5 linked regions of the Homo sapiens genome follow. The protein of the gene in region 2 purifies or fractionates together with the protein of the main gene of each other region. This does not show direct contact. Each region holds a gene or a part of one and is shown on either strand. Other genes may lie near its edges.

What was found.
Region 1: the proteins of SNX8 (region 2) and SLC18A2 purify together in Homo sapiens (co-immunoprecipitation; one large-scale study listed by IntAct). This does not show direct contact.
Region 3: the proteins of SNX8 (region 2) and THUMPD2 fractionate together in Homo sapiens (co-fractionation; one large-scale study listed by BioGRID). This does not show direct contact.
Region 4: the proteins of SNX8 (region 2) and NPTN purify together in Homo sapiens (co-immunoprecipitation; one large-scale study listed by IntAct). This does not show direct contact.
Region 5: the proteins of SNX8 (region 2) and SNX18 purify together in Homo sapiens (pull-down; one study listed by IntAct). This does not show direct contact.

The regions. Positions count from the first base shown.
Region 1 is NC_000010.11:117,245,883-117,252,261, reverse strand, and holds part of SLC18A2 (synaptic vesicular amine transporter), read right to left. Parts: intron 1-6,379. UniProt on the Homo sapiens protein: Electrogenic antiporter that exchanges one cationic monoamine with two intravesicular protons across the membrane of secretory and synaptic vesicles.
Region 2 is NC_000007.14:2,303,336-2,309,714, forward strand, and holds part of SNX8 (sorting nexin-8), read right to left. Parts: intron 1-6,379. UniProt on the Homo sapiens protein: May be involved in several stages of intracellular trafficking. May play a role in intracellular protein transport from early endosomes to the trans-Golgi network.
Region 3 is NC_000002.12:39,760,796-39,767,174, forward strand, and holds part of THUMPD2 (U6 snRNA (guanine-N(2))-methyltransferase THUMPD2), read right to left. Parts: intron 5,315-6,379; coding exon 5,262-5,314; intron 624-5,261; coding exon 536-623; intron 1-535. UniProt on the Homo sapiens protein: Catalytic subunit of the THUMPD2-TRM112 methyltransferase complex, that specifically mediates the S-adenosyl-L-methionine-dependent N(2)-methylation of guanosine nucleotides, most probably at position 72 (m2G72), in the U6snRNA of the major spliceosome.
Region 4 is NC_000015.10:73,594,362-73,600,740, forward strand, and holds part of NPTN (neuroplastin isoform b precursor), read right to left. Parts: intron 3,009-6,379; coding exon 2,661-3,008; intron 1-2,660. UniProt on the Homo sapiens protein: Probable homophilic and heterophilic cell adhesion molecule involved in long term potentiation at hippocampal excitatory synapses through activation of p38MAPK. May also regulate neurite outgrowth by activating the FGFR1 signaling pathway.
Region 5 is NC_000005.10:54,522,283-54,528,661, reverse strand, and holds part of SNX18 (sorting nexin-18), read right to left. Parts: intron 1-6,379.

The sequences.
Region 1 (6,379 bases), on a different chromosome or scaffold from region 2:
CTGTAATCCTGGCACTTTGGGAGGCCGAGGTGGGCGGATCACCTGAGCTCAGGAGTTCAAGACCAGCCTGGGCAACATGGCAAAACCCTGTCTGTACTAAAAAAAAAAAAAAAAAAAAAAAAAAAAATACAAAAAATGAGTCAGGCATAGTAGTGCACACCTGTAATCCCAACTACTTGGGAGGCTGAGGCACGAGAATTGCTTAAACCTAGAAGGCAGAGGATGTAGTGCGCTGAGATCATGCCACTGCACTCCAGCCTGGGTGACAGAGCGAGATTCTGTCTCAAAAGTAAATAAATAAATAAAAAATAATCATAGCGCCTTCATTTAAAGTTTACACTCAGTTCTCCAAGCATTTACACCCACCAGATTTAGTCATGATTTAATAAGGGCCCTATTTCACCTCCCTATGTTACAGATGAGGAAACTGAGGCATGATATCTGTCATTACTTATCAGATGTCATCAGACTAATTTCGCCTGGGCCATTCCCACATGGCTTTTCCTTGTAAATTTTACCACCTCCGCCAGTACCCAAACGGCATATATAGCTTTAAATAGAATCTTTCCAAAAGTTCTCTTGACCATATTCAAATATTTTTTAACTGCTTCACCTGTATCCAGAAACCAAATACCAAAAATACAGAGAGTAACTCACAAGCATGACAGATTCCCAGACAGTCAGTCCCCTCCCACAAACCATGCAAAGATTCCCCTGCTGTGAACAGAGATGAGCTTGTAATTCACAAAGTGGGGCCCCAAGCAAATTGGGTAAACCAGAGAAGATGCCAGGATTCTGACCTGCAGTTCAGATGGCCATCGGGTGACAGCTTCTTCTGTCTCAGCCCACCCAGAGCTGATTCTCTGTACCCCTTATTCATGTGGACAAAAGAAACCCAACACCGGGGGCTCACACGGCACTGCAGGATACTGAATCAGGAAACGTCCAGGAGGCTCAGAGAGGAGAACTCACAGGCAATTTATTTTCAGCAACTACAGTTTGTCCCATGAAAGAACGGGCATATGACAATCTTCCGGGCTGTCCTGGAATAAACACAGGCTTCTCCCTCTGTTCAATATATATTTGGAAAATCTAGTTGTTGAAGTACCAATACGTATCAAAGCTATTGGAATTAGGGGCTTCACTCTTGTTTCACCAGTTCTTCATTTTGGCTATTTATAAGGCTCTAATATGGAACCCTTCAGGCTGCAGGGACATCCCTGAAGGCAAATAAGACATCTGTGGCCCTTTCCCAGACTGTAGGCAGAAACACTGGGTGGTTTCAGGACAAAACTCAATAAAATGTGGCAACCCTTGTCTGTGGCCCCCAAACCACCAGCCATACTGTGCCCACTGTTCAGTCCAGCCAGTATTCCAGGTAACCCATCAGGGCACAGCTGTGGTGGGCTGGAAGCCACTGAGGTCCCTCCCTACCTGAAGACTCAGACATTCCCACGACTGTAGGCAGGGAACCAGCATGCTGGGTGGCCTGAGATTCCAAGGGAGGGTAGCTGGTTTTATCCATTTTTCAGAGGATCAACACTGAGGCTCGGGGAGGTGAATTACTTGCCCCAAATTCAAGGCTACGGGCATACCCTGAGTGTGTTAACATGTGCTAGGCCCTGCTGATGTGCACCTGGGTGGGGACGCTGGAGCACATGGGATGGAGAGTGCACAGTTTCACTGAAAACCACAGCGTTTGTGCCTACAGAGGGTTCTTTTTACCATTTGAGGTACTGTGTTTTCTTTAGAAACACTGCAGCTACTGTTTTTCTTTTTAATTTTCTTTGGGATTTTAACAATGCACGTATGGAATAAACGAATATCACAGCTAGAAGGAAACTCAAGGGCTAGCCAGTCCAAACCCTCACCTTAGATGAGAAAGCTGAGGTTCAGAGACAGAGTGGCTCACCCATGGCTGCAGAGCAAGCCAATGGCTTCAGATACAACCAGGCTCATGTTGCCGCCTCCTCAGTACCGGACACACCTGTGCCTGCACTTTCAACACAGGCCAAGCCACTGCATGGGCTGCTCAGTGGTAAGCGCTGGGCATCATTTTTCCCCAGAGCTCGGCTTCAAGGCAAAGAAGACTCCCTGGGAAGCTCCTGGGTCTCCGTTCTCAAACTCTTCTGGCCCCTCGGGCACCCACCATAGAAGGAGAGTCGTCCAGCGTCCCTAGTCATTGAGTGGTGGGCAGAAGGACCAAACCCTTTCTGCTTCCCCACAGTATCTCCTAAACAGACAGAAACTCAACTGACATTAGTCACAATCTGTGTCTGAGTTGCCCCCCTTGTCTCAATTCAGGGCCTTCTCAATTAAAGTATTGCTAAGCAGAGCCAGATCTGATTCAGCAAACCTTTAGCCAAATGTCATACTGGCCCACGGTCATCCTCTACAGAGCATCACGAAGCAGTTAATCCAATTTGAGTAAGACTAAAAATCACATAATGAATCCCTAGAAAAACATGTAAAACAATAAAAGTTATGTTAATTATATATACTTAGTCATTGGAGAAACCCCATCTGTCCCTAAATGGTCAATGAAGACAATACTTCTCTAGTGTTAATAATTAGCTTATCCTTGCCATAGAGACTAATGGAAGCTCTCTTCTCATGATTGCTAAAACCACAGTTTCCTCTACCGTGGTAAATTACAAGAAGCATACAGACTACAGAGCCCCGAAGGGTGCAAACTATCACCAGATGCAACGAGAGACAACAGCTCCCTTCCAGTGATCCCTACACACTCCTAAAAGGTGTGCAGTAAATGAATGTCAGTAAATGGAATGATATTTTCAATTTGCCTGGATATAGTAGGAGGTTTGTCAATCATTTAGTAAATAAAATTCTTCGATTCCGCTTGTCAAAATTCTTAGGTTCTGCTTGTCTTTTTCAGCTACCAGAGAATTCCAGGGGGCACGGACTTCTCACTTTCCTGGGCGTGAGCCCTGTTCTCTGACACATAGCTTAACAGAGCTTTTGCTTCTCCTAGGAATGTTCTAATTCCACAGCCAGTTTCCTCTGATTTCAGAAGCAAAGACTCATCAAGCCCTCCCTACCATCCTAACCACATGCAGGATGGGAGATCTCTTCTCAGAACAGCCGGTTTCCCTGTCCATAGAGAAGCTGAAAAGGTCACTGCTTGTTCCTACACAGCCCACTTCAGACCCACTGGCTGAAGCTAGCAAAAAAATAAAATAAAACCATGGTAGATTTCGTAGAGATTTCATGCCCTGTGGCTTCCTCCTTGTCGTTCAGATGTTAGCTAAGATTTGCAAGCAAAAAGAACTGCTTTCAAATATACTAAGTAACTATGGAAATAAATTAAGCCATTGACGCTGGCTTGATAAAAAGCAGATCACTGAGACAATGACAAGCTAAGAAGGAAGCAAGGGAAACGGTCCCCAGCAATGAAGTTAACTCTTTCCCAAGCCAGTCGTTTGGTGTGGAATATCTTTTGGTTCTGAAGATGCAACTATTATTTCAACCTTATGCTAAGCAAGACCACAATGCCATATCGTTACCTGACTGAGGGAAGAGAGAAATGTAAACGTGTTGTCCCATTGTTCATGTGCCTGGAACTTTCCTCTTATGGACATATATATCTAAAATTTGCTTCTTAGACCAAATGATGACCAAGTATCACTAGTATAATTTCTGGTACCACCTGCACACAACTGCAATCATGAAATGAATAGTTCAGCCAAAATTATAAAATAGGAGGCAAGAGGTTCCAACATGGAAATCAGGTCAATCCAGCAACCTCAGGCTTTCTTGGAAAGTGTGCTATTGGCCAGGTCATCACTACACACACCCAAATCAAAGGTTTTTGCCACCTAACTGGTCATATATTTTCAGCAGAAATACAGGATCTGAATAACAAATGAAACAGGAAGAATGTGCATCCTATTAGCAGTTAAATGAACCCAAGAATTGTTACTCTATATTTTCAGGGTTTGGTGTGAGAACTTATCGAATATTTAAAAAAAACAGACAGGGCCGGGCATGGTGGCTCACGCCTGTAATCCCAGCACTTTGAGAGGCTGAGGCAGGAGGATCACTTGAGGTCAGGAGTTCGAGATCAGCCTGGCCAAATGCTGAAACCCCATCTCTACTAAAATACAAAAAAAATTAGCCAGGCATGGTGGCATGTAGTCTCAGCTACTCAGGAGGCTGAGGCAGGAGAATTGCTTGAACCTGGGAGGTAGAGGTTGCAGTGAGCCGAGATAGCCCCACTGCACTCCAGCCTGGGCAATAGAGCAAGACCCTGTCTAAATAAATAAATAAATAAACAGGCGGCCTACATTTTGTGACTCCTACCCACAAAAGCCACACACATGGCACCATCACGACTGTGAATAGAGGATTCCAGTTATGGTGTGGTGTGGTGTAGAATGTCTCGATTCAGAGTGGGTCCCACTTCAGTTAAAACAAGCAGCTTTGGAAAAGAATAGCTCTGCCCAGCCTGACTACAGGAAGCTTTCCCCACACATCTTTAGGGATGCACGAGGCTGGACCAGTTCACATCAGGGACTGGAAAAAGACTGAATATTTCAGGGACCAGGGAGGTTCCATGTCCACAGGAATCAGGCTGATCTTTTCTAAACTCTCTGCTCATTGATTAAAAGTAGCAAAATCAGCAACTCACTGGGTCTCCAGCAGTTCTGCCTGGTACAACCAGGAAGAGCCCAAGTCAGTGCAAGAAAGACAGATTTTGAGCTGCATTCTTTATTTCTAGTAGCTAAAGGTACAAGCTGTATAATTGTAAGCAGGTGGGAAGAACAGGAAGCGGGGAAGAACAAAGCTTGAAATGGGACAGTCGGAACATGTGGCTACAGTCCTGCCACTGTTGTGGTAAATGCTTTCTCCTCCTGAACTGCAAACTCCTTTGCCTATAAAATGCTAGGACTGGCCCAAAAGCTTTCAGGAAAAGTCTCTGCAAGCTCTGATGCTCCATATTTTTAACTACTCTTTAATCAGAAACATATTAACCAATTTTAAAAAGCCTTTAAACACATTTGTTTACAACACTGAAGACTTGAGTCATACATCTTGCTCATGGAGGATGTGATTGGCACAGTTTACATCAAAAGACTGTTTGCAATGGCTCACAAGTTAACTCCTTGAAGACAATTAAAGGCAAATGGAATGCACATTTGTCCCTTCTCTGAATCCATCTGAACTGCGGTGGGAAGCAGAATCTTGGAGTGTCCAGAAGAGCTGCCCAGTCCCCAAATTCATATCTACTGGGCTTGGAAATTATGAGACAAATTACAAATCAGGATCACAATATGAAAATTTATTTGCTCGCTGAGGGCGGTGGCTCACGCCTGTAATCCCAGCACTTTGGGAGGCCGAGGTGGGCAGATCACCTGAGGTCAGGAGTTCGACACCAGCTTGGCCAACATGGTGAAACCTCGTCTCTACCAAAAAATACAAAAAATAGCCAGGCATAGTGGTGCACGCCTGTAATCCCAGCTACTGAGGAGACTGAGACATGTGAATTGCTTGAACCCAGGAGGTGGAGGTTGCAGTGAGCCAAGATCACACTGCTGCACTCCAGCCTGGGTGACAGAGCAAGACTCTATCTCAAAAAAAAAGAAAAAAAAATTTGTTTGTCCTTCCATATTACCAGGCAGCACTAGAAAATCATTTTCAAATTTGCTCGGTAGCTGGACAAAACAGTTGGGGATTACAATTTTGCTCTAGATAATTTCTAAAGTGGATTACTCACCATGAGAATAGACTAAATTTCACAAGTCACAAAATGGAAGATAATGTTTTTGAAGTCCCAAACATGAGCCTGGTGTGGCTACAGCCTCAAAGCCGTTGGAGTATTTAACAGGGGAAAGAGCTCACTGGTTTTAAACAAGCCTCTTCCCCATGGCATAAGCAAAGCATTAAAAATAAGAATGGGATTTTTAAAAAAGCTTTTCATTTGCCATTTGCGTTTGGAAGATTGGAGTACTCACATCATTTCAGCCGAATTTCTAAGTATTACACTGTACGGCTAGTAACGTTCCACCCAAGTGATTGGCAAGGTATTATTACGATAATGTCCTCAATTTTCACATACAATATTTGAGCTGTTTGCTTTCTCAGAATACAAAACCCTGAGCTATTTTCTGTAATTATACCAGATGCATTTTAAGAAGCATTCTTAGTCTTGAAAAAAGGAAAGAAAACAATCCTGCAACTACTGAGGTCGGTTTGGTTTTTCTCCTGAGAACAGAGGAGTCACTGAATGTCACCTTCTTAATGGGCTCACAGTCAGCCCTTCGCTGGGTTAATTTGCTTAGCATGTTTTATGTAGCAGCCTTAGAATATTGCTCTGCACAGACTAGAGGGCTGGACATGGCTTGAGATTGTTGAAATCAAT
Region 2 (6,379 bases):
GGTCAGCCCCCCGCCCAGCCAGCCGCCCCGTCTGGGAGGTGAGGGGCGCCTCTGCCCGGCCGCCCCTACTGGGAAGTGAGGAGCCCCTCTGCCCGGCCACCACCCCGTCTGGGAGGTGTACTCAACAGCTCATTGAGAACAGGCCAGGATGACAATGGCGGTTTTGTGGAATAGAAGGGCGGGAAAGGTGGGGAAAAGATTGAGAAATCGGATGGTTGCCGTGTCTGTGTAGAAAGAAGTAGACATGGGAGACTTTTCATTTTGTTCTGTACTAAGAAAAATTCTTCTGCCTTGGGATCCTGTTGATCTGTGACCTTACCACCAACCCTGTGCTCTCTGAAACATGTGCTGTGTCCACTCAGGGTTAAATGGATTAAGGGCGGTGCAAGATATGCTTTGTTAAACAGATCCTGAAGGCAGCATGCTCGTTAAGAGTCATCACCACTCCCTAATCTCAAGTACCCAGGGACACAAACACTGTGGAAGGCCGCAGGGTCCTCTGCCTAGGAAAACCAGAGACCTTTGTTCACGTGTTTATCTGCCGACCTTCCCTCCACTATTGTCCTATGACCCTGCCAAATCCCCCTCTGCGAGAAACACAAGAATGATCAATTAAAAAAATAATAATAATAAATAAAAAATAAAAAAAAATAAAAACTTAAAAAAAAAAAATACAAAAAAATTAGCCAGGCGTGGTGGCGGGCGCCTGTAGTCCCAGCTACTCGGGAGGCTGAGGCAGGAGAATGGCATGAATCCAGGAGGCGGAGCTTGCAGTGAGCCGAGACTGTGCCACTGCACTCCAGCCTGGACGACAGAGCGAGACTCCGTCTCAAAAAAAAAAAAAAAAGAGAGTTGGGGATCAGTGGGACTCATTCTCCCACCCCTGCTCTGCAAAGAAGGACCGACTACACATAAATCCATCTCCCCGGCCGGGCACGGCAGCTCACGCCTGGAATCCCAGCACTTTGGGAGGCCAAGGTGGGCAGATCACGAGGTCAGGAGATAGAGACCATCCTGGCTAACAGGGTGAAACCCCATCTCCACTAAAAATACAAAAAATTAGCCAGGCGTGGTGGCGGGCGCCTGTAGTCCCAGCTACTCGGGAGGCTGAGGCAGGAGAATGGCGTGAACCCGGGAGGCGGAGCTTGCAGCGAGCGGAGATTGCCCCACTGTACTCCAGCCTGGGCGACAGAGCGAGACTCCATCTCAAAAAAAAAAAAAATTCCATCTCCCCAAGGACAGGGGCAGATGGGAATACGGTCCCCTCACTGAGTAGCCCACCTTGGAGGGAAGCACGCCCATTTGCACATAACACAGGGTCACTTTAAACTTCGCAGAAGCTTCCAGGAGTGTCCCTCCTTTCCTATCTAGCCAAGGAAGGAAGGCTAACCGTGCACATGCCGTCCTGAGATAAGAAACTGCACACACAGAGACACTCCCCAGACTCTGAAGAGCTGAAAATGCAATTTCAAATCTCCTTTTGGTGCAAAACACGGGCACTAAGTGGCCGGTTCTTGAAAGACAGGTCCACCCCCAGCCTGGACTGGAATTTCTCAGGAGCTGGGAGGTGAAATTTCGGTCCTGAAGATAATGAACTGTGCCCAGTAATGAATATCATCTGACTCTCCTTGACAGCTTTGGCCAGAGAGCTGCTTTTGGCTTTTGGCTGAGAGTGAGGTTCCCAGACAAGCCTTGCTGTTCCTGCAGACGCCGGAGGGTCTGGGTGCTCCTTCCTGCTGTGCTGCCGGTGGGTCACCGAAACAGCTGGACTCAACAGAGCACCGGGCTGAGCCAGCAGCACTCAGGCCTCAGAAACAGCTGGAGGCAGGGGAGCTCTTCTGCTGATCAACCGCAGTGCCCTCTGTTAGGAGCAGACACTGAGGCAAGAAAACGGATTTCACCCTAAAGGCACCTCCCTCTGGGTAAATCCAACGGGACTTGGGGCATGAATACCAAGGCAGTCAGTCCAGATAGTCCTACAAAATTATCTTAGGAACCTCAGGTTTTCCCCCAACATTTTGTATTTTTGTTTGTTTGTTTGTTTTTGAGATAAAGTCTTGCTCTGTTGCCCAGGCTTGAGTGCAGTGGTGCAATCTCAGCTCACTGCAACCTCTGCCTCCTGGGTTCAAGTGATTCTCCTGTCTCAGCCTCCCAAGTAGCTGGGATTACAGGCACCCGCCACCACACCTGGCTAATGTTTATACTTTTATTAGAGAGGAGGTTTCACCATGTTGGTCATGCTGGTCTCGAACTCCTGACCTCAGGTGATCCGCCTGCCTCGGCCTCCCTAAGTGCTGGGATTACAGGCGTGAGCCACCATGCCCGGCCTGTATTGTATTATTTTGTATTATTAAATACTTTACACATGCACAGAAAGGACTATAAAACTTCTATGAACACTCGAACAAAATTATTTACCAAACACGTGTAACCACCATCCAGGCCAAGAATTAAAGACAGCCAGACTAGGCACGGTGGCTCACACCAGTAATCCCAGCACTTTGGGAGGCCGAAGCAGGAGAACTGCTTGAGCCCAGGAGTTCAAGAACAGCCTCAGCAACGTAGTGAGTCCCTGTCTCTACAAAATAAAAAATAAAGACAGCGGCACCCTGGAAACGCTCCTTCTGGTTGCATCCCTGACAGATCTGGGTGCCTTCTTCCCGCCAGAGGGAACTACCAGCCTAATTGGTACGGCATCTTCCTCGATTTTCATTCAGTCTTATCCCTTATCAGGCTCTGTAGGGTCTCCCAAAGCATTGGGATTACAGGCATGAGCCACTGTGCCCAACCCGGGACAAGTCATTTTTTTGTTTGTTTTTTGTTTTTGAGACAGTCTTGTTCTGTCGCCCAGGCTGGAGTGCAGTGGCGCGATCTCAGCTCACTGCAACCTCGAGCAATTCTCCTTCCTCAGGCTCCCGAGTAGCTGGGATTACAGGCGCATGCCACCAAGCCTGGCTAATTTTTGTATTTTTTTTTAGTAGAGACGGGGTTTCACCATGTTGGCCAGGCTGTAATCCAGCCACCTCAGCCTCCCAAAGTGCTGGGATTACAGGCGTGAGCCACCGTGCCCAGCCTCCGGGACAAATTTTAATATGGATTCCATTTAACAAATCATTTTCTGGAAAACATGTGGCAAGAATATCTCTAACTGAAATTTTTTTTAACTGAAATTTTATCATATTAGCACTTTCGAAGCACAACTTTATATTCCTTAATGCACTATTATACAGACACTAGGTAGAAAATTACGAAAACTAGCAGTGTAGAAAAATGTCAAGTGAAAGGAACTAACTATAAAGACGCATATTCACTATGATGATAACTACATACAAAGCAATGCACAGGAAAAAAGGAAATATATTAAAATGCAACGGCTGTTAAAAGGGGTGGAACTACAGGTGATTTGTCTATGAAATTTTTGCGATTGTGGTTGTATCACTTGTATAACAAAATTTTCTGAAAGCACCAATTCACACAACAACAGCGCATTACTGGGTCTGATGACAACTCACTCATCAGGCTCCTGGTGGACACCCGCACAAATCAGGTTTTGGAAGATTCCTGGAAAATAACGTAACTGGGCTTCTTGAAAGATATTACCTAACCTGAGTTTCTCCGGCCCCTACAGTACTTCCTGGGGTTAATCAAACTTTGTGTAATTTCACTTCAGATTTCCATAACACACAAACTTCAAAATGCTTATAGGGAGCTAAAAAGACCCCCATTAAACCCCTGCTACACACAACAGAAACAGCAAAGTGCCTCCTCCCACCCAGTCAACAGAAAACAGCAGGAAGGGCAGACCAGATCCTCCCGGAGCTGAACACACACCCCTCCTCAGTCCTCCCAAAAGGGACCCTACCTGATATTTTAATGCCAATATTTTCCCAAAAACACTTCTCACAAAGCACTTCTGCCCTTTAAGTCTGGTTATGTGATTTTTTTTTTTTTGGTGATTCTATAGTAGAAATATGCAGAGCGTGGCCGCGCTCCAGTTTCTCAGAGGATGACAATGGACCAGGTGCAGTGGCTCACGCCTGTAATCCCAGCACTTTGGGAAGCCAAGGCGGGGGGATCACTGAGGTTCCAAGTTCGAGACCAGCCTGGCCAACATGGTGAAACCCCATCTCTACTAAAAATACAAAAATTAGCCAGGTGCGGTGGTGGACACGTGTAATCCCAGCTACTCGGGAGGCTGAGGCAGAAGACTCGCTTGAACCCGGGAGGCGGAGGGTGCAGTGTGCCGAGATCGCACCATTGCACTCCAGCCTGGGCAACAAGAGCAAAAACTTTGTCTCCAAAAAAAAAAAAAAAAAAAAAAAAGGTGACAGTGACAATGCTGGAGACCGACAGCCAGGCTCTCCATGCACTCTCGGGCTCTGTGCCTCCTACCTGCAGCCTCCAAGCTTCTAATCACCGCATGGCTCCTCTCAGACACAGCAGGTCCTGTGAAACCACCCACGTCCAGCCAGCACCACCATCACCCCCGGTCTCTTCCCACTACCCCAGCAAACAGGATGGGCAAACATCTCTTTTTGTGATGCTTTTCTCAGGAAAGACAAAATAATACCAAAACAGAATTCCCCTACCCGGAACACATCACTTTCTTGCTAACCACAAATTCTGGCAAAATCTGTTCTACATAACAGTGATTCAGTTAGTTCCTCTTTCTTCAAATTGACACGTTTTACCTTGCAAATTGTGTATGTGTGCGTGTGTGTGTGTGTGAGAGAGAGACAGAGAGAGAGAGAGGATGAGCAAGTTTAAAGACCAGTAACAAAACATATTTGCAGTGTTGTCAAGTCTTATCACATAAGAAATATAATACAAAAATTTATAAAAATGTAATTCTATTCAAATATTTGAGACTCTGCTACATAGCAGATAGTATTCTAGATACTGTGGTTAAAGAAAAATAGGTTTCTGTTTTCTGGAGAGAGCCAGAATTAAAAAAAGAAAAAAGTAACAAAACTATATAAACAAAATAAACTTGTAAAAAAAATAAAAATAAGTTTGCTCATCAGGAGTTTACTACCAAAATATGTGTCATGGCCAGTCACGGTGGCTCACACCTGTAATCCCAGCACTTTGGGAGGCTGCAGCGGGCGGATCACCTGAAGTCAGGAGTTCGAGACCAGCCTGGTCAACATGGTAAAACCCCGACTCTACTAAAAATACAAAAATTAGCTGGGCATGGTGGCACACGCCTGTAATCCCAACTACGGGGGAGACTGAGGCAGGAGTCACTTGAACCTAGGAGATGGAGGTTGCAGTGAGGCTAGATGGCACCACTGCACTCCAGCCTGGGCAACAGAGTGAGACTCTGTCTCAAAAAAAAAAAAAAAAAAAAAAGGGTCATGGAAGGGAGCGAAATGGGGCAGAAGGTTTTGTCCCTAATGCAAACAATACTGTGGGGCATAATTTAATCACCATAAAATGAACAAATTTTTTTTTTTTTTTTTTTTTGAGCTGGAGTCTTGTTCTGTCAACCAGGCTGCAGCGCGGCACCATCTCGGCTCACTACAACCTCTACAACCTCTGCCTCCCAGGTTAACGCAATTCTCCCACCTCAGCCTCCCGAGTAGCTGGGATTACAGGCACTCGCCATTATGCCCAGCTAATTATTGGATTTTTGTACAGACGGGGTTTCACCATGTTGGCCAGGCTGGTCTTGAATTCCTGACCTCAGGTGATCCGCCCACCTCGGCCTCCCAAAGTGCTGGGATTACAGGCGTGAACCACCAGGCCCAGACACAAATCTTTTTTTTAAATAGGGATGGGGTCTCACTCTATTGCCCAGGCTGGCCTCAAACTCCTGGCCTGAAGTGATCCTCCTGCCTTAACCTCCCAAAGTGTTAGGATTACAGGTGTGAGCCACCACACCCTGCTCAAAATGTATAAATAGGCCCAGTGGGGTGGATCACCCCTGTAATCCCAGCACTTTGGGAGGCCAAAGCAAGTGGATCACATGAGGTCAGGAGTTTGAGATCATCCTTCCTGGCCAACATGGCGAAACTTCGTCTCTACTAAAAATACAAAAATTAGCCAGGTGTGGTGGCACACGCCTGTAATCCCAGCTACTGGGGAGGCTGAGGCACAAGAATCACCAGAACCAGCCGGGCGCGGTGGCTCACGCCTGTAATCCCAGTGCTTTGGGAGGCCAAGGTGGGCAGATCACCTGAGGTTGGGAGTTCGAGACCAGCCTGACCAACATGGAGAAACCCCGTCTCTACTGAAAATACAAAATTAGCCAGGTGTGGTGACGCATGCCTGTAATCCCAGCTACTCAGGAGGCTGAGGCAAGAGAATTGCTTGAACCCGGGAGGAGGAGGTTGCGGTGAGCCGAGATCGCGCCATCGCACTCCAGCCTGGACAACAA
Region 3 (6,379 bases), on a different chromosome or scaffold from region 2:
TCATGAACATGTATATACCAAGCCACATGACAGCTGAATAATTCAACAACTCATAAAAATGCAAAAACTTAAAAAAATACAATATGAGATTTCAAAAACTTCTTTCAAAATGGAGCAGTGAAACACACAGTAAGTAAAAATAATGGAGAACATTTCTTCACTAGAAGATAAAGTCATCTTATGTCCATAGAACATTTACAAAAATTGACCAAGATCTTGGTCACAGACAAAAACTTTAAGAATAGGAGGTTTTACAGGCCACATTTTCTAACTGTGACACAAAACATTAGAAATAATGAAATGTAGCTAACTTTTGACTCAGCTTTTTCAGAGCCAAAATACTCTCAGAAGTTCAATAATATATAAAAGCATTACTGCAGCAGTTTGTAAGTACAATGGCAAAAAGAAAAGAAGTTAAAGAAAAAGCGTCAAGAAAAGAAAAAGCAAGTAACATAAATATCCATCAATAAGAGACTGTATAAGTTAATTATGAAAAGAACCTTGCTATTAACAGGAAGGAAAACATTTTTCTTACCTTAATGTCAGCCAGAGATGCCATTGCCCACGCTATTGTAGATCGCAGTCCAGCTGTCTTGATGTAAGCTCTGCTGGCTAGGGAAACCCTACAAAGGATAGAATCTGATTATATATTATTACACATTGAACAACAAGATATAAAAATGATTTACCTGTCCAAATCTGAGAATCATTTAAACATATTCATCCAACATACACTAAAGTATTCCCTAAGTTAGACAATGTTTCAGTCTTATTACAAAAATTGCTTCTCTAATGGGCACCTTGTCTACCCAGCCAGTGTTGAATTTCAGAAAGGTAAATTTTTAGACAACTGAAATTTACACTCTCACGTATTTAATGTATAAAAATGTAATTACACATGAGGAAAATCTTTCTTATACTTCCCTGTCTTCCCATACAGAGTAGACCTTTTTTTGCTATTTGAAGTCATGAAGGGGAATGTACTATTTTGTGATATAAATGTAGTATGGGAAGTAGAACTGAAGGGATGCTAACCCTTAAAATCTGTTTTCTATAAAAAGTCCCTTTTGTAGGTTTGTTTTTTGGTTATTTGCATCTTTCCCAAAAGATGAAATGAAGCATGACATTGCATTGTCTAAAATAATTTACTGGATGATGGGCCAAAGCAGACATCTCCCAAATGAGTTCACTGGTCTCCAAAAAGCATCAGTTCACACTTTATCCTCCACCTCATCAATGCCACTATCACATCAATGTTTCCAGATTTGATAGAAATTTTCAAAATGTCATCTATTATTTCTGTCTTTCTAATGCAATGAACAAGCAGAATCTCCTTGGAAATTACAACTTTCCAAGCTTTTCTAGTTCACTTCTACAATTTGTTGGTAAGGTACGAAGACATGATGTCAAGAATTTGTGTGGGTTTGTCTTGGGGTTGGCTTCTTCCAAAACCAGCAAAAGAGGTCTTCTACGAACATTACGGAAAGCCATGATTTTCTTCAAACCCTCCTTAAGGTTGTTCAACAGAATTCTAGGTATGTGAATATTAAACATTTCTTTCTTTCACCATTTTGCCTCTCATCTTTCTTTGACTTTAACTTATCCTGTTTTTGTATTTATTGCAAGCCTCTTAAAATCTTAGAACTAAATGATATACCCCTTTAAAATAAAACAGTGTAATTGTATACTTGCTATTATAATGAGGAAGTTCTACATGGCAAACCCATGGGAGTTTGGCTTTTTAATAAAGTTTTTTCAAGAAACAACAATTCACATTGTAAACAGTACTGTATATATACATTTGGAATGAGGGATGTAAACTGGCAGGTAGAAACACTATAAAATATTTTGGCCAGTGAATTTTGCTTCTACGGGGTAAGCTTAGCAATTATCTTGCTATAAAACAGTTTGCACTCTAGATACCAAAGTTATAAAACACAGTTTGCATTCTAGATGCCAAAACTATAAAACAGAGTTTGCATTCTAGATACCAAAAAGGGAGACGCAGTATGGGAAACCAGCTTTGTCCATATATATGAAAAAATGCTCTTCTAAGCAGCAGGAATTTATATGGAACCTTTCAAAGTTTCAAAAACTATGTATATATTTCTGCTAATAGAAGTTTTTGTGGGACATAATTCTATTAATATTTGACAAAAGTGAATGTTCACATTTTGCTTAAACCTGGGCAAAATTATCTCATTACTTCAACAAAAGGGCCCCATTATATCAGTATAACAAAATTATTCAGAAGAAGGCACGTTCAGAAATAAACTCCTTGAAAATAAAAATAATGCTTTACTTTCAGAGAACCTAGCTAATGTACACGGTTCAAAAATAAATGTGGTTTTTGATCCTCTTCTCTGCATGTGTGCATTTTTTTTTCTCTTGTACACCTTGTACCACCAAGACAAAGACGTCCTAATCTATATCTCTAGCCTAGACTTGTTACCTGAACCCCAGATCTTTATCTTCAAATATGTGCTTGAACATTTTTATGTGGAAGATAAGTAGTGCAAAGTCAACAGGTATAAACTGAATACACTATCCTGGATTTCATATATTGATACATTTCTTCATTTTCTTGTGCCACGTACTATCCATATATTGGGTACCATACTCTACCTCTTCAGTCTACACTTGTCACCTGAACTCTAGATCTGTAACTTCAAATATCTACTTGGACATTTTTCACTGAATACACTGTTTTCTTTCCCTACATTTTGTATCTCAGTGACTAATACCAGTATTTACTAATTGTTCAAATCAGAAATCTGAAATTATTCTAGACTCCTTAACTATTTTTTGATTTCATGGCCTTTTTGTTACCTCCAAGAGTTTAAATCCTCTCCTTCTCTCTTTTTATTTCCCTTTCATTTAAAAATATAATTTTCTTGGTAATTTTTTTGAAATCACAAATCTGATCACATCACTCTTCTGCTTCAAATTCTTATTGCTTTAAGGATAACATCCAAGCTGTTTAACATATTTACAAGGCACTTCATGGCTTGTTTCTAATTTTCTACCACTTTCTCTATGTCCCATTTATACTGAAACTACCTGCCATCCCCCATGTAAATCAAACTTCCTTATACATACTTAAACAAGGCACTTCATGGCTTGTTTCTAATTTTCTACCACTTTCTCTATGTCCCAACTACACTGAAACTACCTGCCATCCTCCATGTAAATCAAGCTTCCTTATACCTTGTGCCTTTGCACAGAGATTCCTTGCCTGTAATACCCTTTCCTTCTCTTCTCCATGCGGCATACACTTTCTTATTGCTTTCAAGTCTCCTCTTAGGGACAATCCTTTATCTTTCTGCTCACAGGTCCGTAATTAGAGTTAGTTTCTCTTTCCTAACTCTAATCAAGCATTTATCACAGATCTGTGCTAACACTGGATTGAACTGTTTCAAAAGTTGAAATTTATTCAATGCTTACTGTATCCTAGAAACAGCAGGAAAGATTTTCACGTGGGTTATCTCATTTAATCCCAAGGACGAAGCTATAAAGTAGGTACTATTATTTTCCTGATTTTATAGCAGAGAAATATGATAACTTGCCCAAACTTGCAGAGTTATAATAATTTGTGGAGAAGATAGAATTCAAGTCCACAGTTCTTATCTGCTATGCTATACTGTAGTAGGTGATGTGTACAGAGTGGCAACAGCTATATACAGTTAATGCTTCATGGGGCTATTGATATCCAAATGGTTTTTTCCTTTAAAGAAAGTAAAACTCAAATATGAACAATGTCTTTAGGAACTTAGGACAAATTTTTATGTGATCCTTTAACTTCATGGTGCTCTCTACTTTGTTTCATCATTTCAGACTTTCTTCTGTTGTTAGGGTCACCAGGTTGCAGTTTCTGTTATCCACTGTCACTTCTCTTGTCCAGTGCTATCTGTTGTGCAAGTCTTCATGTCTCCCTTTTCATGTCCCGGTAAATTGTTCTTTTTAGCCAACACTCATCACTGAGACTGCTTCCTTCCTACACTGAGGTAGTCAAACTGACTAAACACAGAGCATCTGTTGTAACCTCATTTTCAACTAGTGCTCATTCAAGGTCTCAGTCTTAATTTTCAGATACATATCTTTTATTTGTAAACTTCAAGGTACACTATCAATTATTATTTGAAATGCCATGGCATGACGTCTTGAATGTTTCTAGCAAGCATTAAAATAATTTTAAATAATCAAATACCTTTTAAAAAACATTAATATAAAGTTATATTAGTTAAATAAGAAGCACAAAATTAAGCATTTTTATATATAATAATTTAAAAATGAGTTATTTTATTTGGTGGTAAGAATCTAATTAATACCACACTCAGCACTGCTACGGGTGAGATACTCTTCCTAAATTTTTTTGTTTTTTTGAGACAGAGTCTCACTCTGTCACCCACGCTGGAGTGCAATGGCATGATTCTGGCTCATGGCCACCTCCGCCTCCTGGGTTCAAGTGATTCTCCTGCCTCAGCCTCCTGAGTAGCTGGAATTACAGGTGCCTGCTACCATACCCAGTTAATTTTTGTATTTTTGGTAGAGACGGGACTTCACCATGTTGGTCAGGCTGGTCTTGAACTTCTGACCTCGTGATCTGCCTGCCTCGGCGTCCCAAAGTGCTGGGATTACAGGTGTGAGCCACCGCGCCCGGTCCCTAAGTAAATTTTTTAGATACTTAGGCTCACTTTTTGGGGGTCAAAGTATTAAAAAAAAAATTAACTACTTTATAAATTTAAAAAAATATACATTTTATATTTTGCTTGTTTTGCTAGTGTTTCCTACTTTTGTCTTGGTGATCATCAATAATTATACTTAATATAATTGCTAAAATATGTCCATCTTTTCGTTTTCTCCACCCTTTCTGTCTTTAAAATTGTCAAAGAATTTAAAAAAACCATATAGGCAAAACTGTTCAAATTAAAGGCACTGGAGTAGGGCAGCCTAGAAGCCTTTTAGGTATAGGTATAGGGCTGTGAAAACCATTTAATAATAGAACTAGATATAATTTTCAGTATTAATCATGTAATCAGTAGATTACCATGACCAAATATTTCCCAGCTCTAACTGGTCAGTTCAAATCATATCCACTAAGTTCCGTGAAAATACTTTATTGTCTTAAGCAAAGAATTCAAATGCTTTGCCTTTAGCCTTCTCTGTTATATGAATGCTTCATTCATGCTGTAAATAAAAAACACAAGTTCTTAATTTAACCATCTGTCTTATGGGACAAACCGGAAGCTTAGAATATCTACCTGAACACAGGAATCCCCACCACAGAGTAAATGTCATTTAGATGTATAAAGATCTGAAAGAACAAACACAGAAGTTAGAATGGAACAAGAAACTTCATTACCAAATTACTGACAATTTGAAATTTCCATTTTAAACTTACATGATCTATGTTTTAAAAAGAAACTCCAAGGCCTTATTCATCATATCTAGAAAAATGTTCTATAATCTTTTTTTTTCTTAAGCAGAAGGAAACTAAATTTTAAGTACATTTCATAGAAAAATTCTGAGGTCAATTTATTATATAGGAGAGTCATGTTACAAAGAACTCAAAACCAACTTTCTTCCTAGAGATTCTAGGAATTATCATAAGTGGACCACGCTTTTCAGTATTTTGCGTTGAGAAGATTTTCTAAATCCACCCTCATTTTAACCTCAAATAGGATGCGAGGCCACACAGGACTATCAGAGGCTGCAAATACTTTCAGGGTAACAGAAAACTTTGTTTAGGCCAAATATATGGCAGCAAGGGTGCTGTTTTCTCTATAAGTTTCTGTCTTTCTTTATTTTCTTTCTTCTGTTAGGCCATGAAGAGTATTTAAGCGCCCCACATTATAATTAGTAGCCAACATAAATTTTAAAAGCTAGAATCTTACTTTTGTAGCCTGATAAGGTTTACAGAATATTTTAAATGCTGTTATGAACCTCAAGAATATCTGGTCCCTGATACTCGCACCCCAAGATAACTTTAAATATTAACAGCTTAATCAGAATTATTCCAATATTGATCAATTTCATCAAGAAAAGACTTACCTGGAGTGATTCCATTTGGTCAATTTAATTACCTGATTAACTGATACATCACAGCTAAACTTCCCAATTTTACATATTATGCATTTTAGCAAAACTATTTATTAGAATTGTTTTCTATTGACAATTTATTCTAAAGATACGACATGTTCATATATCAAATGTTATTAAGAATAGCCTCTCCCACTATAAATGTTTTCCTATCAATTTTGCAGAAGGAAATTTGTTGAGATTTGATTCCTCTGTCAATTTTTTAGTCACAAATTTTACTACGTGTGATTTTTGTGTTGCCAATTTTGTGTTAATTATTTGTATCCATAATAGCTATTAT
Region 4 (6,379 bases), on a different chromosome or scaffold from region 2:
TGGTAGACTTTCTGCCAAGTATTCTTTGAAGGCAAAGGAAAGCACTTTTTCCCTTAAGTGTTAAAGATCCAGGAGAGAGTCACTGGGAGCAAGTGGATAATTTAAATAGGTTTAAATATGATTCTGCACCATAGGAGGGTTGTGGGGTAGGGTAACCTGCCTCCTGTGATTGCTGTATATGAAAAACAGTGCTACACCAAGTTCCTTGGCCATGGTGCCTCAACTGCATTCTGCACCAGGATGAAGGTGGGGCTTTTATTTTTGTGGCCAAGCGCTGCCCAAAGTCCAAGAGAGATGAACATTTAGGAGAAGTTCAAATGTGTTTACCTGCCACTGATGTCTATTTAAAAGCAGTGGATAGGAGACCCTTACCCCAGCCATCATGCATATATAAAGAACATGCTATGGCCAGAGAGATACCTAAAAACTGGGCACACTTCTCTTCTTGCCTTACATACTCAATGAGCTTTGGGGAAAGTACTACCAGGAGGTCATTCTTAGATAGAACACCTGATGTCCCCATAGAGCAATGTCTTTTGGGACGCTGAGATCATAAAACAGTCCAATTAGAGTTGGATCCAGGGTGTTTTAAAAAAAAAAAAAAAAAAGCAGCAGCAGCAGCAACAACCTCCTGGCTCTCCAAAACAGCTAACTTGGGTTAACTGACTGATGGGGAAGTCTGAAGAGAGTCTAGCCAGGATTTGGATTTGATTCAACCACATGCAGACAATTCTAAGTAAACTGGGGAATGCTATGTATTCTCGGGATTGGTAGGTAGGTACCCCAATGCCTCATCTTTTTCTAGCCCCTTGGCATGGCCATTCTAGCTATGAGTCAGGCTCTTGGAAGTATAAGTGCAAATGCCCAGCCCAGTCCATACCTATAAACTTCCACAGACCTTTGTGGCCATGTAGGTAATTCTGCTTTTATAAGGAAAGGAGCAAGGGGGCAGGAGAAGGAGGCGTGCAGGGTAAAAATATTGTTAAAAAAAAAATCACTGGGTTAATGTTCCCCATTTTCACATAGACAAGGTTTTCTTTTCCTCTTTCCAGAAGCAGGTTCTTTGATTCAACAGTGCCAACTGCAGCAGCCTCTCCTACCACTGCCCTACAAAGGACTCTTTTTTTACCCATAGGATCTTCAAGTGGCTACAAAGAACAGACACTAATTTGCTATTTTCCATCTAAGTATATAGACTCAAGGCCCATGTCTTACTACTTTATGTTATTACCAAATTCCTCATCAAAGTAAGATTTTACTATTCTTACTTTCTCTAGATCAATCAGCTCTTTAAGCTGGAACTGGCTATAGATCTCTCATTGTGTCCTCAAAGAGAAGGTGAAAAACCCAGAGGATCTTTCCAAAAGTGAATGTCCCCTCAATTATAACCAGGTTTGATGTGGGGCCAGAACTCTTCTTGGCCAGGAACGTTGGTTCTGTGGTGGCTTCTCCCTCTCTCTGCTTCTCAACATAAGGTAGCAAGTCACTTTCAAGAAAGAGAGAGAAGTGGCCACAAAAGTCCCGGTGTCATATGTCTCACGCATACCTGCTACAAGGAGAGGATTCTGAGCCAGCTGGTCAGCTCACCCCATCACTATGAGAAACCAGGTTGGAAGTTAGTTTCCTCTTTTTTCAAGACACAAAGAAAAGGCCAGTGTGAGTGGTCCCCACACTATGTCTGGAGTTCCCATGCTCTGGGATAAGGTACACTGTGCCAACAGCTACTCATCAGAGTCAAACCGTGAACAGGAATCAACTGCAACTCTGACTTCCAAACAGTGTGATGGGCTAAAAAAATAATAATTTGCAGCTTAGTGTCACCTGGCTCCTAACAGCAAAACATAAGAAGGAAGTCCCAGGCTGCTGCTTTTAAAGAGGAGACTAATTAGCAGGCCCAGTGAGGAGTACACTGCTGCAGTAGAGGGCTGTTATCAGAGAAGCACATGCCACGGTTTTAGAAAAGAAAAAGAGCTGGAACTATGAAAATATCCAAGCTTACATGCCACCCAACAACCAAAACACACCACCACACTGCACCCATGGCAACATTCCCATCACAACAAGATGACACCAAGTCACAGTTAAAGGAAGAGGCTGGGCAGACACAAACTTAAAACCATAGAGGTGAAGGCAGCTACTTAGAGAGCTTCAAACAGAAGAACAGAAGAAATAAAAAGTAGTTAGACTGGGGAGAGAAACAAAAATAGAAAGGCACCAGAGAAGAAATCAGCAAAAGTATAGCAGGAAACCTACTACAAAATCAAAGGGGAGGGAAAACCATTTCAACACTACCCTCCTTGGACTGCCTGGTTTTATGAGTTTTAATTTAAGCTTCCCAGTTCTCCCTCCCCAACTCTTCCCAACACAGATGATTTTGGACAGTCACGGATTTCCTCAAGTTCTTTGTTCCTGAGAAGAAAGACACAGAGAAGGGTTGGGGGATAAGGGAGGCAGAGAGAACGGCAAAGAAAAGAAGAAAAAAAGTTGCCACAGATGTTTTCATACACTACAACCAGAAGGGTCATGGGATTGAAAAAAAAACGAAGACAAGGGGTGGGGTGAGTGATCATACTGGGGAAGAGGGAAAGGATGCAGAAGGGAAGGGTCATTGGGCCACCTCTAATGACTACAGTACTACTACTGTAGGGTGCTGGACTCACTCTGAAGGACGCTTATGGTGGCCTGGGCTCGAATCCATGTTATGGAGGGGTTTTGCCTCAAGTCATTCCTCTTGGGGTCGTTGCTGGCCCTGCACTCGTAAGTCCCAGAGTCCTCCAAGGTGAGCCGGGTTATTCTCAGCACACTCACGCCGTTTGACCCGTAGGCGGTGTTTACGGTGACACGGCGCTTCCGAGCACCGTCCCACAGCTGTCTGAAAGACTCTGCCCGGTTGACTTCTGCGTACCACCACTGGATCTCTGGCGTGGGGCTCCCGACCACGTCACAGTACAGCTCAAAGGCGTCCCCCGTGAGCTTAGTTTCTGACATGGGCGACTTGACAAACCCAGCTAGAGGGAGGGGGAGCAGGAATGCAGTGACAGGCCAATCAGAAAAAAAAAAAAGAATCAACAGGTGTTAATAGTAATTTAAAGAAAAGAAAAGAAAAAAGCAAATGAGTTGCAAAGAACAAAAAAGGATTCATTTTTAAACTATAAAGAGACAGTACAGCAATTCATACAAGCTTTTAGAAGAAGAACCACACCCTGGGAAGCTTATGAAGCAAAGGCAGGCTAATTACAAGCTGGGGCAGCCCAGGTGCTGGCCAGGCAGAAGCAAGCCCACTGGAAAGCATTTTAGCAATGGGCCCAGCTGGTAGGAATGAGAAAGCCTCAGGTCTTGGGAAGAGCCTCTTTCCTTAGAACACAAACCATTTATTACCTTTTTAAACTCAGGCAAGTGATGAAAGATAACCAGAAGAGGCAGTAGTTTTATATGCCAAATCAGGATCTCTCTTTTGGATGGGCAAACGCTTTGTTAGAAATGCAGTGTCTTTTGCAAGCCTCAACAAGAAGTATTAAATGACCTACTGGTGCCTTCTCTTGGGATTCAGAGTTCAAATTTCAACTGAAAGAGTAGCAAATTTCTCTCTCACACAGGATTCTATCCTGGGTTCGATTAGACTTTCTCCACCTCCTATTCTTCCCTGGGCCTATGGCAAACAAACAACCCAGTTGTTTAGCGTTAGGCAGCCTCTTCCTGAATGCAGACCCTCAGGAGAACAAGACAGTCTGTACTTCACACCACAGTGAGATATTAATACTTTGTGGGTCAGCTCAGAAGTGGGACCAACAATACCAGCAACCCAACTCACTGCCAGCTAATGGAGGGACTGTGCCCTCCATAACCCCATAGATCCATTACCTAGAAAAATCTGAAAAGCTATGGTATTTGACAGGCTCCATACAGTTGAATTGCCTGGCTTCTAGAAGCCAGCTCAGAAGAATGAGAAATGTACCCTGATGAATTAAACTAAACACTAGGGTGAAAGCCAGGCCTCAACCAACACTCTTAGGAACTGCCCAGGAACTAAAGTTGATGCCTACCTCTAATTGCCCATAATTTGCTTGAGGTTACACTTCCATAAGACAAGGTGGAAATGGCAGAAAGAGTTAAAAAAAAAAAAAATCCAGGCTTAGTTTAAAAACTTGGAGTTAGGTCCATAGGAAACAAAATCAGAGTGCAAGCATACTCTCTCTTACCCTTCCACCCCACCTAGGGTTCATTCAGCATTTCTACTGATTCAGACAGTATCCGAAGGTATAAAGAGAGACACTAAAAGAGGGCATTCTGATTGGCTTGGAAACGTCCCCTGGGAGGCCTGCTGCATAAGCCAAGCCAGCCCCTGTGCAGTAAGCAGGGAGTGAGGTCAGGATCTGCCAACATCAAATTAAGAACATTCCAGAGGAAAGGATGAAATAAATGGAACTGTTTTCCTACAGTCCAGAAGCCAAGGATGTTAACAGGGCTAGCTGAAAATGGAGGTTACTAAGTGGAAAAATTCCTGTTTACATCCATAGCAGTATTTGCCTTTGGTGATAACCCCACACCATGGACTAAGAACATTAATGGAGGTACTATACTTACTCAAGTAGAGGCCAAGACCTCCAAATTCATACTAGTCTTTCAATTCCTGACATTTTCAGACTCTGGGGAGCACAGGAATGCAGTGATTAACAGGCTTAGACTAAACGTTCTGCCTTTAATATGCCATTTTAAACTACCTCTTCAGATCCAGCATGCATTCCTTGTAAGGAAATATCTACCAGAGGCCCCAAGAAGCCCAACAGATGTCATTCTCAGATGCAGGAGAAGCTTTAGAATTACAGAAAGGAGCCCCCAAGCCCCTGCATGAAGAGCTGAGCTCACTGCCCAATAAAGTGGTATCCAAGGAGCCATGTCTCGGTCTCACAAACTACCACCTGCCCACCTGTCAAAGTCAATGCCAGCTAATATAAACAAAGAAGTAAAGGAGGGCCGGGCGTGATGGTTCACACCTGTAATTCCAGCACTTTGGGAGGCTGAGGCGGGAGGATCATGAGGTCAGGAGTTCAAGACCAGCCTGGCCAGTATGGTGAAACCCCGTCTCTACTATAAACACAAAAATTAGTTGGGCATGGTGGTGCTCACCTGTAGTCCCAGGTACTCGGGAGGCTGAGACAGAAGAATCACTTGAACCCAGGAGGCGGAGGTTGCAGTGAGCCAAGATCGTGCCACTGTACTCTGCCCTGGGCGACAGAGCGAGACTCCGTCAAAAAAAAAAAAAGAAAGAAAGAAAGAAAGAAAAGGAAGGGAGGGAGGGAGGGGAAGTAAAGGAAGTTGGTTTTATTTATTTTACTACTGGCTCAATCACCAGAGAAAACTGGATATCAGTAAATCCCTGAAATGCAGTAAAAGTATTATTCTGTTTTAATCATATTCTTGACCATAAGTGGTAATCACAAATGGTCTTATCACATTATCTGTGAACTTGGGGAGTTACAGCCTCTCAAATGCGGTAATTATGTACTCGATTATGCCCTAGAACTGTTAGTGGATTTCTTTTGTACTTTTTCCCTTCTTCTGTATTGTACTTCAAAGCAGCCTTAGACTTAAGCCTGTTTATCAATCTGTTGACAATGCTAATGTAAAAAAGATGCCTGAAAGTATCCTTTCACCAAGAATCCATCCAATTCCACTGTAACCCCAAGTCCTAATAACACACAAGTCACAGGTAGCTGAGAAACAGTCTGACTATGATTCCCACTGCACACAACTGGGCGAGTCACTCAGCCAGATCATGCCACCCTGGGCAAGACTTCCTGCTAAGAGTAAGGAATGCTGATCTGAGTCAGTTCAATTTTCTACCTGTATCAAGGAAAATGGGACCAAGACAAAAATGTTCTTTGCATTAGTAAATTATAGGATGTATATTTAAATGAACTTTTAAAACACAAGATAAAAAACCCTTTAAAATGCCAACAATGGTCTTTGAAGGCCATTATTGTTATTACCATTATTAGACATATAGAGTAACAGTGACATTTTCTAAGTATGCATTATATGTTTAGGCAATGTGCTAAGCACTTTATTCATTATCATATTCAAAATTCATTTATTCATTATGATAAGTGCCATTATAATTTTTCTTAAAGATGTGGAAACTAACGTCCAAAAAAGTTAAATATTTTGCCCACGGTCACAAGCTAATAACAAAGAGTCTGGCCTGGAATCCAAAGTGAAAGCATGGTCTCTTAACACTTACCACAACTGTGGTCAATGTGTCTCACTGGCCTGAAAAGGTTTTTGTAGTTACTTAAGTTAAAGATATGCTTTGTCACCACTTAGTTTAATTAATAAATTAATTAATAATAATTCCTGGCCACAAAAAGCCAGGAACCTT
Region 5 (6,379 bases), on a different chromosome or scaffold from region 2:
GGTACAGTGACAGCTCCTCACTTCAGTTCCCTTCACTGACCTGAGCACCGGGTACCTTGCTTATCAATTACTGTATGCTTATCAAACCTATCCTAAAGCATTTCAAGATCAGGAGTGCGCTTTCCACCTACACTCCTCCAAAAGTCACACTGTGACCATGTTTCAAAGGGGGAATTCAAATGCTGCCCACTCAAGCCTCTAACACAAACTGACAATTCCTCTCTATCACCTGGACTCCCATGCACTGTCTTATTCGCAGTACTAAGTTAAATCTACCTTTTATTTCAGTCCTCTGTGCACACATTCTACCTCTCTCAAGGAACTGAGTGGGCCTTCCATGAGGGCAAGTACCTACTGCTCTACACATGAGCTCAGTGCTCCGTGTGTATCCAAGTCAAGCAACAAGGTGAATGTATTCTCTGGATCTTGTGCTCTGAATTAAGCAAACGAGACCCCAGTAAACATGTTATAACTAAAACTTACTAATGAGGAAAATGTGTGTGTGTGTGTGTGTGTGTGTGTATGTGCGTGTATGCATGCGTAAGTTTAAACACCAAGAATCAATATAAAGTGAAATCATGAGGTATACAATATTAATTCTCTGGCACTTTAAGCATTTTCAAACTTCCCCTCCCCTCCCCAATGAATTATGTAAAGTCATTTCATAAACACAAAACTCTAAGACTTTTAAATCACTCACATGTTAATGACTTCATCCATAAAATACATCTAGATTCTATCTTTATTTCCTGTACACTTTAGACTGTTATCCATCATCATATAAATGGAAAAACAAAAACATCTTATAAATCTATTTCAAGATCAACCAAGTAGCTACTGAGTGCCTACTTCATTAATTCAGCAAGCATTCATTAAGTACTTGCTATGCATGTATAAAACAGTAGTTAACAGCTATACAACACAGGAACATAAAAACATAACCCACACACTAATAACTGAGCACCGCACAGACAATTATTCACAAAAGGACTACAATCCAAGGGGGATACTCCAAGGAAGGGGACTAGACCTGAAGCTAGAAAGTGCTTGTGTTGGGGTGGGGAGACATGGAGCAGAATGCATGAGCCTGATCTACCTAAAAGGAGAAAACTCAATTCCTGATTGCTGCTCCCCACCCCTGTTCTGACAATTCTTATTGTAGGCCAGGCCAAACAGGCCAAAATTACAGTCACCCTTGATGACTCCCCTTTCTCTTGCATGTCACATCCTTCACAATCCCATCTCTCAGGAAAACCTGTTGATTCTACCTCCAAAATATAGCTGGAGGGGGACCCCCCCCCCCGGCTCCCCGACCACCACCTCTGTTGTCTCCACTCTGGTCCAGGCCACCAGCATCTCTCACCTGGATTACTGGAGTATTTCCTACTAGCTCCCTGCTTCCATCCACCTTTGACTGCCACACGCCATTCTATTCTCATTGCTCTGGACTAAGTCTGTTAATATGTCCAGTTGGATGTCATACCTTGGCTCAAAATCCTGTAATTGCTTCCATCTGACTCGGGCTTTCATTCCAAGTCCTAACAGTGACCTGCAAAGCCTTGCAAATCTGACTTTCCATGACCTCATCTCCTAGGATCCTCTTAACTTCAACCACCTGGCCTTGCTGTTCCTCAACCTGCCTGGCACATGTCCACCCCAGGGCCTTACTTTAGCTAAACCCTCTGCCTGAAAAGCTCTCCCCCGAGATACCTGCTTGGACGACTCTCCTGACTCCAGAGTGATTCAGGTCTCTGCTTAAATCTCACTTTCTCAATGAGACCTACTTTGAGCACTCTTACTAGTACTTCATCCTGCCTCCCATGCCCTCTTTCCCTGCTCTACTGTTTTCTCCTAGCACATACCAAACTCCAACATACATCAAAACTTACCTCCTGTGTTTGTTTTTCATTGAGTGTCTCCACCCTGCTAGACTGCAAGCTCCACAAGGGTGGGGATCTTTGTTTTGGCCACTGATGCAACACTAGCATCTTGAATAGTGCCTGGACGATGATGGGTACATACGTATTTGTTGAATAAAATCTAGTTTATCTTTTAGAGGGTCCTATGAATAAATCTAATGATTTTATCTCCCCTTCCTTCACTGTCCCCTTACCTGCTAAATAACAATTTATTTAGCAGAAGAGGAAAGTCAAATCACAGTGACAGATAAGTCATAAGAAAAGGTACAGAAATGACAAGTGAACTAAAACTCATTCAAATTAAAGTTTAATCAAGCTATAAGATCAATATCAGAGGCTGGGCACGGTGGCTCACACCTGTAATCCCAGCACTTTGGAAGGCCAAGGTGGGTAGATTGCTTGAGGTCAGGAGTTCAAGACCAGCCTGGCCAATATAGTGAAACCCCGTCTCTACTAAAAAAAATAAAAAAGTTAGCCAAGCATGGTGGCACATGCCTGTAATCCCAGTTACTCGGGCGGCTGAGGCAGGAGAATCATTTGAACTCGCGAGGCAGAGGTTGCAGTGAGCCGAGATCGCATCACTGCACTGCAGCCTAGGTGACAGAGCAAGACTCCATCTTTAAAAAACTGTCATAATTTATCTCTTTGGTAGTCCTATTAATTTGGGTCAGAGAGAAGTCGCTCCAGCTGTCTACCATACCACAGCTTCAGAACACCCGGGAACCCTCACCAGGCAGCAGCAGGCCAGGTATTAATCACTTTTACATTCGAAGTTCCTAGTGAGGTAAGCCTGCAATGCGTGATTGCTGATCTGAACTAAACGTGCATAAATGTTCTTTCACATCAACTGATAAGGGCTTTTCATGCTCCCGTAAAACAGTCACATAAGTAGACAGAGAACACTATTAAAATCAGCCTGAAACAATGTCTAAAAGTTTCCTGGATACTTAAGACTACTCTTATTTTTTTAAAAAAGTCAACTAACAAAATAGTACCTAGGAAATAATGAACCTCACTTTTACAGATGAGGAAACTGAAGCTCAGAAACATTAAGTGATCTGCACCAGAACACGTGATTTGGGTTAGAGGGGAGCCAGGAGGAGACAGTTTACATACACTCTTCAATGTGAACAACAACAAACGATTGACTCCAAACAACATCTACATTTATCCCAGTTGCCATTACTTCCGGTGTGCAATACAGGGCGAACTGATTAAAGCAGATATTTAATTGCTAGACTGAAGACTCCTTGAGCTTTTGTACTTTTGCCTACAATTCTGGTGGCAATAGGTTGCCAGGAGGGATGATAAGATTACTGGAATTGTCCTTCAAAGGAGAGCGCCCTTAATTTTTTTTTTTTTTTTAAAGAGACAAGGTCTCACTGTGTTGCTCTGGCTGGATTTGAACTCTTGGGCTCAAGTGATTCTCCTCCCTCAGCCTCTCAAGTAGCTGGTATTAAAGCCATGTGCCACCATGCCTGGTTGTCATCTCCTTTTAAATTCACCCATCTATTTTTCAAAAATAAACATTTAGTGACTAGCTACTATGAACTATAACATTTAATTCTCATGCTGACCTCGTGAGGAAGTGCCCCCACTTGGCCAAAGATAAGTGAGCGTTACGCAGGTTAAAATAGCTTGTCCAAAACTCCTCCATGCCCACACACTGGCCCTCCAGAGCCCATGCTGGTCCCGACAGGCCAGCTCCCACTGCGATGAGGCTCTGCACCCACGGCTTCTTGGCTTGGCATGCTGCCCCTTCACTGGCACAGCTTCCTCAGCAGACCCAGCTCAGTCCCACCCCTTGGTGCAACTCCTGGGGCAGACTGGCCCATCCACCAGGCTCTCAGAATCCTGGCACAAGGAACTGCCGAGGCTGGCTGACCTGTCTCTGTAGCTAGTCAAATAACTCACTTAAGACCAGAGGCCTACCCAGCCCTCCTGCAGACACCGGCAGAGCGGCCAGATTCTAGTCTGTGTTGTATAAATATGAGACATGATACACGTCTGCCTTCCGGATATAATCTTGTCAAACAGAGCTCAGCATTACTCTGCCACTTTATAATCCTTTAGTTAATGATACAGAGCTTCAAAAATATATGGCAAATTAAATCTAACTTGATATTTAAACTTTGATTTAAAAATACATGGGGTAATACAATAATAGTTTTTTATTCAGCCCAAAGAGAAGGAACATATTAAATAGTTCAAGGGAAGTGTTTGTAAGTGAATCACAGAACTTCTCACTTGTTTGGGTTCTGGCATTATGCTTAGAAGTCCTAAGATGGCCAGACAGGACAACATTGCTGAACAAGGAAACCTCATAGGCTCCCTGAGTTACTGGGAGGAGGGTGGGAGTGCAGGTCCTCTGCCTCCCTTCGGTCCCACTGTGGTCGGCATGACTCTGAAGGCTATGTGGCTCAAAAAAGAAGTCTGAGAAACCCCTGACGGTGTGGTATGAGCGGTGCCCACACCCAGTTTCGTGCCCAAGACTGTCCTTGGGCAGTCACATTTATATTTTAACCAAGGAACTGAGTCGTGTATTTCGAAAGCACCAACGGTCACCTTATTTTCACTAAGAAAACACAAACTGGGGCAAAGGGTAAGCCCCAGACCTGTTCTCTTTTTAGAGACATGAGGTCTTTTTAGAGAACAGCTGGGGGTAAATGCAGGGGAGAGGAGAAATGGGTTCAACTAAAGATGGAGTGAAAACAAAAAGAATGAACAGCCTCAATTTCTAGCCCAGAGGTTTCAAAAATAAGGATGAATTTGCAAACAGCCCCAACTTCTTAGAGCTTTTCTCTGTATTCCTGGCACCACCCTTTCAGGGCTATTTTTAGCTACAGGAGAATGGGGAGCAGACAGGGAAGGGTCTCCGTGTGGCCCAGCCTTACCTTGTGTGCCCTGCTGGGACTCCAGCTATCTTTAATTAATGTCTGAAGGACATCAGGCCAACTCTACTAGTGGTAAAAGGAAGCACAATGGTGAAATTCTACCCAGCAAGACTGACAGGCCCACTACTGGTATACCATTCCTGAGGTCCTGGGGCTTTTATTGAAAAAAGGCTCCATCTGGAACATTTAGAGAGCGATGAAGTAGAGTCTGTATATTTAAGAGTACAGAAAACAGGACTGCCTATTTACTTATCTAGTCCTGCCTCCCTGCTTCACACAGCCCAAATCGACAAATCAATTTAACACTATTTTACACCTTTTCTCTAGAAGAAAGACATTTCACTTAAAGGAACTCCCTCTAGCCATTTTTATTTAGTCCAAATTCCTAAACAAGGATGAAACCAGTATTTCTCATAATCTTTTACAGTCTTCCTTTTAGCAATAGTCGCAAGAGGTAAACCTAAATCTTTTAAACCTCAACTTGCTGCCACCTAGATTTAGCTTTATTAAATATTAGAGATTGATCATATCTTTGGAAACAAAACTGAATATGCCAAGAAACTAATAATAAAATATATTCCTCAGTACTACCCAAACTCCTCAACATCAACACTATAAAGGTATACTGCAGACAGGCATGATAAGGAGGGAGAAGATAAAATGCTATCACTTAAGAAAAAAAAAATCAAGACCACAGGGGTTACATGTCAGTGACAAACATCTGCACACTGCCTAGTCAGGGATTGATGAGCTACCTATGAACAAAGAACTTAAAGGACTCCTATTAGGTCAAAGCAAAACACAAATAAAATTCCAATAGATTCTGAATTCCCATCTAATGTACCGCAGACTACAGCAAACTACCGTCTTTCTTCGCTCAACTCCATTAACCTAAATAGTTAGACTCCATCCGTTGATGAAAAAAAATCAAAATTCCAGAATTCTCTTTTGGCTGAAGGAAGTATATCGCTTTCTTCACTTCTGCAGAAAGTATGTACACTAAAACCATTATTAGTTTAAAGAATGGGTTCAGTATTTAGTATAGTCAGGAAAATTTCAGCCCACCAACATTTAAGAGTATTTGAGTTTTCCACCCTCATTTTGCAGCTGGGTTCTCACCAGGATGGCCTCAGACATCCATCCCGTAACCAATGTGTTTTCTGAATGGGACATAAAGGCACACTGCAAGAGATGCTCACGCTACTGAAATGTCACTCAGGTTGAGTGCTTGGGAAATTCAGCAAAGAAGAATCTAGCAGGACTTGCTTCCCCCTTCCCAGTTTTTATTAATTAAGCCTATATGGGAAGGAGGAGGTGCAATGAGATGACCAAGTAAAAATAAAGCTATCAGGAAACTATATTAAAATATAATAATTTGCTGGAGAAACTTACGATGGGGTTGATAGTTAAACTGCAGCCAGCAGTTTAACACAGCACTGTCCAATAGAACTTTCAGCACTGATGGAAAAGTTCTATCATTTCTGTTGACCAATATTCAGTTCCTTAGTCACATTAGCCATATTTCAAGTGTGTAACAGTTGGGGTTGGGGAGGTGACGGAATTGAG